Regions from separate parts of the Homo sapiens genome. Here region 1 is linked to region 2. The links come from fine-mapping of genetic effects on gene expression. A gene starts in region 2. The other region holds a variant in brackets. All regions are shown on one strand. Distances are between the middles of the regions.

Region 1 (4,403 bases), 94 kb after region 2:
AATTGAGTCTTCCAGGTATTTAGCAAGCTGAAAGCTTCAAGAAATGACTTTAGGAGTTAATTGCTTTCCTGGTTAAAATACAAACATTTGAACTTCCAAAGTTTTTATTACTTCATATATTTTTTCCCTCTGCTTCATTAAGAAAAGTTATTTTCTTAAAAGTGACTGAAGTTTTATAAACCTGTAATCATTGCACATTATAGATGATAAATATCTATTCTGATTGCTTTGGTGCATCCATGATGTTGTTAAATAGTAAGTACTCTTTTCAACTGAGCAAAGAATAATTAGTGGCTAATGTTAGCGAAGTACAGAGATGATTATATTCTTTGAGACCTTTTCGTCAAAGGATTTAATATATATTCTGCATACTCAGAACAAAAAAAAATGGTTCTGGTACATACTCAGAACCAAAAATAAATAGCTCTTTTAATTTCTTTTTCTAATAATTTTTACCTATAGGCATGAGTTAAGTCTTTACTACCTTCTGACAAATAACTAAATGTGTGGGTTTGGAATTATTACGTCTAATAGAAAACACTTAAGGTAATTAATATCTATTAACATATACTGAACATTCCAAGAATTTACTGAACATTAGTTGACACAAGGGTCTAGTAAATAATTCTAAAGTGTATTTTCATGATTGAAATGAGAGGACAATAAGATAGGAACTGAAGTGTCTCTAGTGCTTGTGGGAAGTGGTAGAGGAGGCAGGATAATGAAAGAAAGAGTTCAAAAGCGAGAACAGGGGTACTGCGTGGGAGGAGACAGGTAGGAATAACAGCATAGTGTAGTGCGGTAACCATGAGCTTTGGAATCAGGCAGTTCTGGGCTTGACATCTAGTTGTGTAACCTCTGGGTCACATTGTCTTCACTTACAAATACAATTTTCATCATGTTGAAATTGCAATAATATTATAACACAGATAACAATAACTATAGCTTACTGAGTGTGCCATATACTTGGCATTGTGCTAAGTAATCACTGTATATTCTGCAGGAGATTTTAAGGGATGTAAAATGCATAGAACGTTCCTGTTCTGTTCTTTCTAATTTTCCCTTTACACCTTACAACAGAATAATATATAAGAAAAGGTTACAATATACAAAATATATTGATTATAAGCATGTAATTCTGTCATAGGGTAGAAATTCTGTATTTCTAATGAATTGTGTGAAAAATGATGGTTTTTAAGAAGATGGCAAAAGTAGTGGCGTGGAAAGAGGCTTTGGAGCCCGGAATCCCACCTCTGCTTCTTCAAGCTGTATGGCAGTTCCCTGAGCACTCACACCCCCAGCCCCAGACCCATCTTGAGACCAGCCATGCCTATCACTGGGATTTGTACATGACAGGGGTTTTCAGGGAGACTGCTGATGAAGCCTATTGGGGCTCACTCTGCGAAGTGTCAAATAGACAAGCTTGGCCCTGCATCAAAGCCTTAGTATGGGAAGGGTGGAGACTCTGTCACTTTTCTGTGTCCCCGACCCAGCCCCTCTCATCTCTGGATATTAAGGAGAAAGGAGGATAGGAATAAAAATAAAAAGAACTATTTTCACAAAAGGCTTTGTAAGACATTGGTATGCAGTGTAATATCTTCTTTGTACTCCTCTGAGAGATTTATATAAAGAGGAGAGTGAGGTCATCCTCTCCCACTTCAAGAACAGTACACGGCTTTTACAGTTTGAGAAATCCCAGCTGTGGTGAGTGGTTGATGCAGCAGTACTCAGTGAGGCGGCGGAAGTGGAGGAAAAGTTTAAAACAAGGTAGATGCCCTGTGATAACTCACTGGGCTCTCTAGTAAGCACTGGGCTTATTGGTAAAGACATCTAGTAAGGT[G/C]CTCTTGAGGTTGCACACAAGTGATCGAGGAGTTTGACACAAAGATGGGATCCTACATCACAACTGAGGGCAAGAGACAGTAAAATCAGAGTTAACATCTAGTGTGCTTCTTTGCATTTCTTATAAATATTCTTGTTGTGTTGATACAGGCATAGAATGAAAAAAATTAAATTAACCGTTGTTGCCTTTTTTTCCTTTTGGCTCTTGGAATTCACCCAGCTTCTTTGCCAGAATTGTTTATATGATTAGAAACCTCTTACTGTCCTAATGACTACTACTAAAATCATCACTTATACACACACTACTTCAAATTTCTGCTTGATTGGACTATGTTCTCATCGGAATTGGCTATGCATGGACCATGGCTTTCGAAGCAATTTAAAATGTGTCCAAAGTATAAAGTGTCTATTCATGCTACAAGTATAGATCAATTGAGAAAGATTTGTAGTGAGTTTTAATCAGTGGGTTATGGATGTGTGAGGACCTAGGTATTGCAAGCCCTCAGAAAAGTTATGTGCACAGCAAGAATTATAAAATAATTTTCCATGAATATAATTTACTACTGTTTTCTTATAATACATAAAGCTTGAAATAAAACACAAGTTTATTTAAATTGTTCTGAATTGTTAGTGGTTTCTTGTTATTATATGTTTTCTTATACTGAAAATGCTTATGCCTAACACAGGGTCTGAGAAGTTTCTTGATAGTGAGGCATGGAGACTTGTACTCAAAAAGTATGAAAAGAAACAGTGATATATTGTTGGGAAGTGTATGCTTCTCACTGTTGACATCATGACAAATAATAGTGTCAAAATATTTTTCCTTACCAGTTTAGAGAATCTCTCTCTCTCTATATATATATGCAGTATATACATGTATTTACATTTTATACACACACACACACACACACACACACACACACACACAGTGTCACTTATAAAACTGCCCCGAATATTTATTACACATCATTTTAGAGGTAACTAAGTGTTAAAAGTATTAAAAAGGATAAGACATTTAACCCGCCCTGGAGAAGTTTATGATATACTAGAAGAAAAACCGTGTAGGACTAAAGAAAGGATTATAAGTGTGGTGTGAGTCCACGAGGTGACAGTGTTTGCAGAGTTCACATCTGAGGTCAGTCTCAAAGCAGGCAGAGAAGGGCAGAGAGAGGTGAATGGTGGCATGAGTTCTATCACAAAATCCTACAGTCCATTCAGGGAATGACAAGCTGTCTGATGTGATCTGAAAATATGGCTAAGTATGGGATAACAAAAAGAGTATAAGAACACAAATATTCCCAAGTGATTTTTGACAAACGTGCAAAAGAAATTCAGTGGAGGAAGAATTGCCTTTTCAACAAATAGTACTGGAATAATTGGTATCCACAGTGGGGAAATAAAGAGCCTTGACTTAAACATCACATTTTATTAAAAATTTAACTCAAAATGGGTAATGTACTTAAATGTAAAATGTAAAGCTATACAACTTTTAGAAAAAACTATAAGAGAAAATCTTTGAGACTCAGTGCTAGACAAAGAGTTTCTTAGTTTCGACCCCAAAGGTACCATCTATAAAAGAAAGAATGAATGGAGGAAAGCCTGGTCTAAAAGTGCCTATGAGACATTCAGATGGAGCTCCCCAGTAATCAGGTAGAAGTGTGACAGAGGCCGGGCATGGTGGCTCACGCCTGTAATCCCAACATTTTGGGAGGCTGAGGCGGTGGATCACCTGAGGTCAGGAGTTTGAGACCAGCCTGACCAACACGGCAAAACCCCGTCTCTGCTAAAAATACAAAAATTAGCTGGATGTGGTGGTGGGAGCTTGTAATCTCAGTTACTCGGGTGGCTTAAACAGGAGAATTGCTTGAATCTGGGAGGTGGAGGTTGTGGTGAGCTGAGATTGCGCCACTGCACTCCAGCCTGCTAGACACAGAGTGAAGGGCTCCATCTCAAAAAAAAAAAAAAAAAAAAGCTTGAGAGAGAGAAGCCAGGGTTTTAGGAGTAAATTCAGATGCAACCTACCTATAGGTGATAAATAAAACTTTGTTGATCCACAAGATAAATGTGAGAGTATGTACAGGAAGAGGAGATGAGGATGGATCATGTGACTTCAGTAAACAATAATATTTTAAGAGAAAGAATAACAATGAAGGAAAATGAGAGAGGTGGTAGAGAAATGGAAATAAGTGGTAGAGAAATAAGTGGTAGAGAAAATGGAAGAGAATTAAGAAAAGGTACAACTCAAAAAGCAAAACGGAGGTTTCAGGAATGGGGCTGTGGTCAGTAGTGCTGCTGTATAACTGATCCAGGCACGAGAGCCTGAGGGCTCTTTGGATTTAGCAGTTAGGAGTCTATTGATGCCCCTTGAATAAAGTACTATCAATAAAGGTCAGAATCCACATTGCAAAGCATTCAAGGGTGAAAGGGAGAGATGAAGGGAAAGCAGATCATGTGGGTTAATTTTGGATAAGTTTGGAGGTGATAGTGAGGGAAAGAAAATTTGCTTAGCAAGCCTGAGTTGGGGAGTTTTTGTTTTTGTTTTTTAATATTTCTGAGTGGAGGAT
Region 2 (4,403 bases):
TCTCTGGTTGGCTTGGAAGACCATGTTAGTTATCAGACAAGCCAGGGATTTTGAGTAACCCCAATTCTTGAGGGGAAGAAAGTAGAGTGGAAGAGGAGCCAAAATTACTAATAGTCCTTCATCTGAGCTAGATTTTTGATATCTGTTGGTTTTGTGGAAAATCCAAACCTAATGTCTTTTATTGAAATTCCCCATCTCGTGGATGGTCTAGGACTGAATTGAGTTATGTAAAATATCATTTGTGGAGTGATATTCATTTGTATACCTTTTCAGTTCGAAACAGTCAAAAGTCTCTCTCTCTCTCTCTCTCTCTCTCTCACACACACACACACACACACACACACACACGTACACACCCACACACAGCCTTAACCCTGGCCACCTCTATACTATTTCTGGAATCCCAGATTCTATAAAACTATTTTAGTTTCTAACAAATGTCTTGGTCTTTATGATGGTCACCACCATGAAACACAGTTACTTTACACTTTCTTGCCTTGTTCATAAATATTCCCCAAGTAAAATTACTTGCTACACTTTTCCCATTTAAATTTGCATTGGCTAAGTGAGAGACATCTCTACAGATTGCTCAATTTTAGGAAAATAACCATTCCCAAGAAACACAAACAAGTCAAATCAAGATAGTTACCAGGAGCAATTCTTTATATTATCCAGTTGCACAACACACTTCTTGAATAAATGACATATCCTAATTTAGGATACATCACCAGATTCAAGTCAGAGAGTATCCTGTGCCAGTCAATAAGAGTGCGGGTCACTGGAAGATCCCTTCGTAGAATTTTTCTCAGGGCTTCATTGGATAACTCCTGTAATTCTTCCAAGACTGCAGCTTGAAATTTGTTCTCTTGCTCTTCCACAAGCCTTGCAAAACTTAGAGCCAGTTGAGCTTGGTTAACTATTTCCAAGCTTTCTTTCAGGTCCTTGGATATTTCAATATGAAGGTTGACACACCTGAAGAAGTGAGCTTGCACAAATATTCTTCCCGTTACTTGGGTTAGAAATGGGTTAACTTGGAAAATCCATTTAGATTTCCAAAGTCCGTTCCAGCACTCTCCTGTTTCATAGTTGTGATCTTCAATGCAAGCTATCAAGTACTCCTTACTTTTGACAGTTTTTCTCAGCATGTTGCAATTTCCTTTTGGATAGTGGTCATTCACATACAGTTTTAAGGCGCACAGAAGAACAACTCTCAGGTATTCTGCCTCATTCTGAATGATACCATGACTTTGGATGTCTTTCAGCTGATTTTGAAGCAGGTCATATTTGAAAGAAAGTTTGCTTTGATGGTCAAAAAATCGGTAGTCGCCCATTACATTGTGGTGAGACAAGAGTACTGGATTTCCATCGATGCAGAGTGGTACAGAATATTTTTGGCAGTGTTGGTGGCCTGCACACTCACCTTGGTGGTGCATAAGTTTTTCATCACGGATAAGCAGACAGAGATCATCAAAGGCATTTACAAATTCCCCTGGAGGGGCCTGTAATAACAGTCTGCGAATTACTCTTTCCTTGTCCTTCCTGCTCAGCACGCTAAGTGTCATGTTTGGTTGCAACAGAAGCAAAGCTTCTGAAATGAGGAGTGTTCAAAGGATAAGAAAACATTCCATGAGCCACCTTTCCCATCAAGGTGTTAACATTCAAGCTGAAGGTTTTTATGTCTATCCATGAAAGCAGGCAGTCTGGCAAGGTCTGAGCCTCCTGATGAGGTCATAAGAAGCTTTCCTTGTGAAGTGTGGAACCTCTGATGATATCACAATGGGAATTCAGACCAAAAGGAAAAAATGACAGTCACCTGACAGTGTGGTGCCCAGCCAACCAGCTATACCTCTTTTGAAGATTTTAAGAACTTAGCCTCCTGAACAGTCTTCTTCGAAAGTGGTGTGTCTCTGTGTGCATTATATGTTGTCAACGATCTAGAGAAGCAGCCCAAAGTTTCAAGAGTGACAGCACTTTGCAACTTCAGGAATCACAATGGTGTTGATTTATACTCAGGCTCTCAGAGTAGCTGCCCAAACCCACTGGAAGCATATTATGATGAAAGGTTTGAGGGGTTTAAACAAAGTAGTAAAAAATAAAAGGAGATACAATGGCAGTTCATGGAAAAATGCCAGACATCAGGGAAAGCTGTGTTTTCAAATATTGTGGGTTTGGAGGTGGTCAGAACGTAAGAAGCCAAACAGTTTCAAGGGCAGGGTAGTGCAGGTACCACATCTTGCATACTGTTTCTATGGTTAAGTGTGAGCTAGCTTCAAAGAACGAAGGCAAAAAAAACCACTGTGTGTTCTCTGCTTTCTCCCTAGAAAAGTGGTAACAGCTGATGAGTATCAAGAAATTATTTTCTGCAAAGGGGCAGAGTTAATTGTATTTGGAACCCATGACAGCACCTACTGGGGAAAGACTTCTAAGTGAGGAGAAACGGCTCTACAGGTCATGAAACTATGGAAATGAGATATCCATTGAGAGCTTCTTTCTGCTCCTCTTCTTCTTTCTCCTACTTATCCTCTTTACTTGATGCTGTTATTCTTTTCGAGGAGTTCTGAATTTAAGTCCTCTTCATTTAAGTTGAACTGCTTTTCCCTGTTTGTTCTGAGCTTTTCTAACTTTCCCTGCATTCTGGTATCTTTTTCTTACAAGAACATGAGCTTTGCTGGATTAAGTCATAACTATTAAATTTAAGGAGATCTCATTAATTCGTTCTAACAATCTGAAACTTAGTAGTTTTGCACAATTTTTACCTATACCTTTTATAATTTTAGTGATAATTGTCATTATCTCATTTCGATCTTAGTTTTTCAAATGGAAGTGTCCTAGTTTTTGTAGTTTATCTATGATAAGTAAGCTTTTAAAAATTTTTTTCGTTTTTCATACCAAATATACACTCACCATGGTATTTCTGATGCTTTTTGATGGTACTGTCTTGAGTGTGTGTGTAGCTGGGCATTGGACTAATGTAGTAATAATAACTTTATCAGTCATGGTTACTATTTATTGAACACTAAGTAGCAGAAACTGTGTTCGGTGGCATATTAGGAATTCATCTAATGCTTCCACTTTCCTTAAGATTCAGGGTTAATTTGCTCACCTTTCTGGAAGAGAGAACTAAAACAGAGAGGTCAGGTGAGAGGCGATCTTGAAGTCTAGCTGCCTTCCAACTTCATGCCTTCAGGCAATAGATTGTTATAATGTTTTAATGTATGTTCTAAGTAATGACTTCAATTCTCAAATTTTAACTTTAATTCTTTTTTTTGTATTTTTACTGTGCTATGCCCTTTCATACCTTTACCATAGCATAGTAACTACTTAATTTTGTTTTTTAAAAAATATTTATCATACAATTATACTATAATTTACTTTAAACATATTCTTTAAAAATAAAAATAATACAGTAAATCAAATGTTTCTTTAGGAATTTTAAATATTCAATGACTTTCTGTGAGAATTTCCTTAACTTTTTTGTGCTTCTACATGGTTTTTGTCAAAGATTCAGGATGACTTCAGAGGTGGAAAAATTAACCTAGAAAAAACTCAGAGGTTACTTGAAAAATTAGATATTCGGTGCAGTTATATTCATGTGAAACAGATTTTTAAGGTAAGATGACATCCACCCCCTGCCTATCCTATCCTAGGTGGAACTTAATCCAATGTCAGTAATTGTCATATAAAGGTTAGTCTCTTAAGAAGAAAAGCAATTAATTATACTAACTATATTTACAATCAAGATGGAGAGCATTTCAGTAGAAGGTAAAATTAGTTGTTGAGAAAATCTGAAATAATACCAGGATATCAGTTTAGAATAATTTCCTGAGCATACAGAAATGCTAACATTAAACCTAGGATTGGATGTCTAATTATATCAGACTGATAATGGTAACTGTATTAGATGTTAGTGATTTATAAAAAGAGTGGAGAATAAGCCCAAAGTTAGCAGAAGGGAGGAAATAATACAGATTAGCACAGAAATAACTAAAATAGAAAAGAAAAAAATTAGAAGAAATTGAGGAAACTAAGACTTGTTTTTTTGAAAAGTTAAATAAAATTGACAAATACTTAGAGTAAGAAAAAAGAGAGAGGAGTCAAATAAAATCAGAAATGAAAGTGGAGACATTACAACAGATCTCACAAAAATGAAAAACACATAGAGCAATCATACACCATAAAATTGGACAATCTAGAAAAAAAAGGGAAATTTCAAGAACCATATAACCCATCAAGACTGAACCAAGAAGAACTAGAAAGGTTAAACAGACCAATAACAAAAAGGAGACTGAGAGGCTGTGTGCAGTGATTTGTACCTGTAATCCCAATGCTTTGAGAGGCCAAGGTGGGAGGATCACTTGGGGCTAGGAGTTTGAGACCAGCCTGGGTAACATAGTGAGACCCTG

Evidence for each region. PIP is the estimated chance that this variant, and not a neighbour inherited with it, causes the effect.
Region 1: its variant is the best candidate, but not a certain one, in a credible set for the expression of PLCZ1 in sun-exposed skin (GTEx, PIP 0.64).

The regions. Positions count from the first base shown.
Region 1 is chr12:18,641,151-18,645,553 of GRCh38, reverse strand. All of the region lies in intron 32 of PIK3C2G (phosphatidylinositol-4-phosphate 3-kinase catalytic subunit type 2 gamma), which reads right to left. Among named protein-coding and RNA genes, the nearest start is that of PLCZ1, 95 kb to the left of the region's middle. The variant G/C (reference allele first, on the strand shown) is at 1,841.
Region 2 is chr12:18,735,428-18,739,830 of GRCh38, reverse strand. PLCZ1 (phospholipase C zeta 1) reads left to right here and starts at 1,819. Exons shown (of 15, transcript NM_033123.4): 1 at 1,819-1,899; 2 at 2,322-2,470; 3 at 3,487-3,610. The coding sequence starts at 2,460. It overlaps CAPZA3 (capping actin protein of muscle Z-line subunit alpha 3), which reads right to left and starts at 1,712. Exons shown (of 1, transcript NM_033328.3): 1 at 643-1,712. The coding sequence starts at 1,562. The coding sequence ends at 663.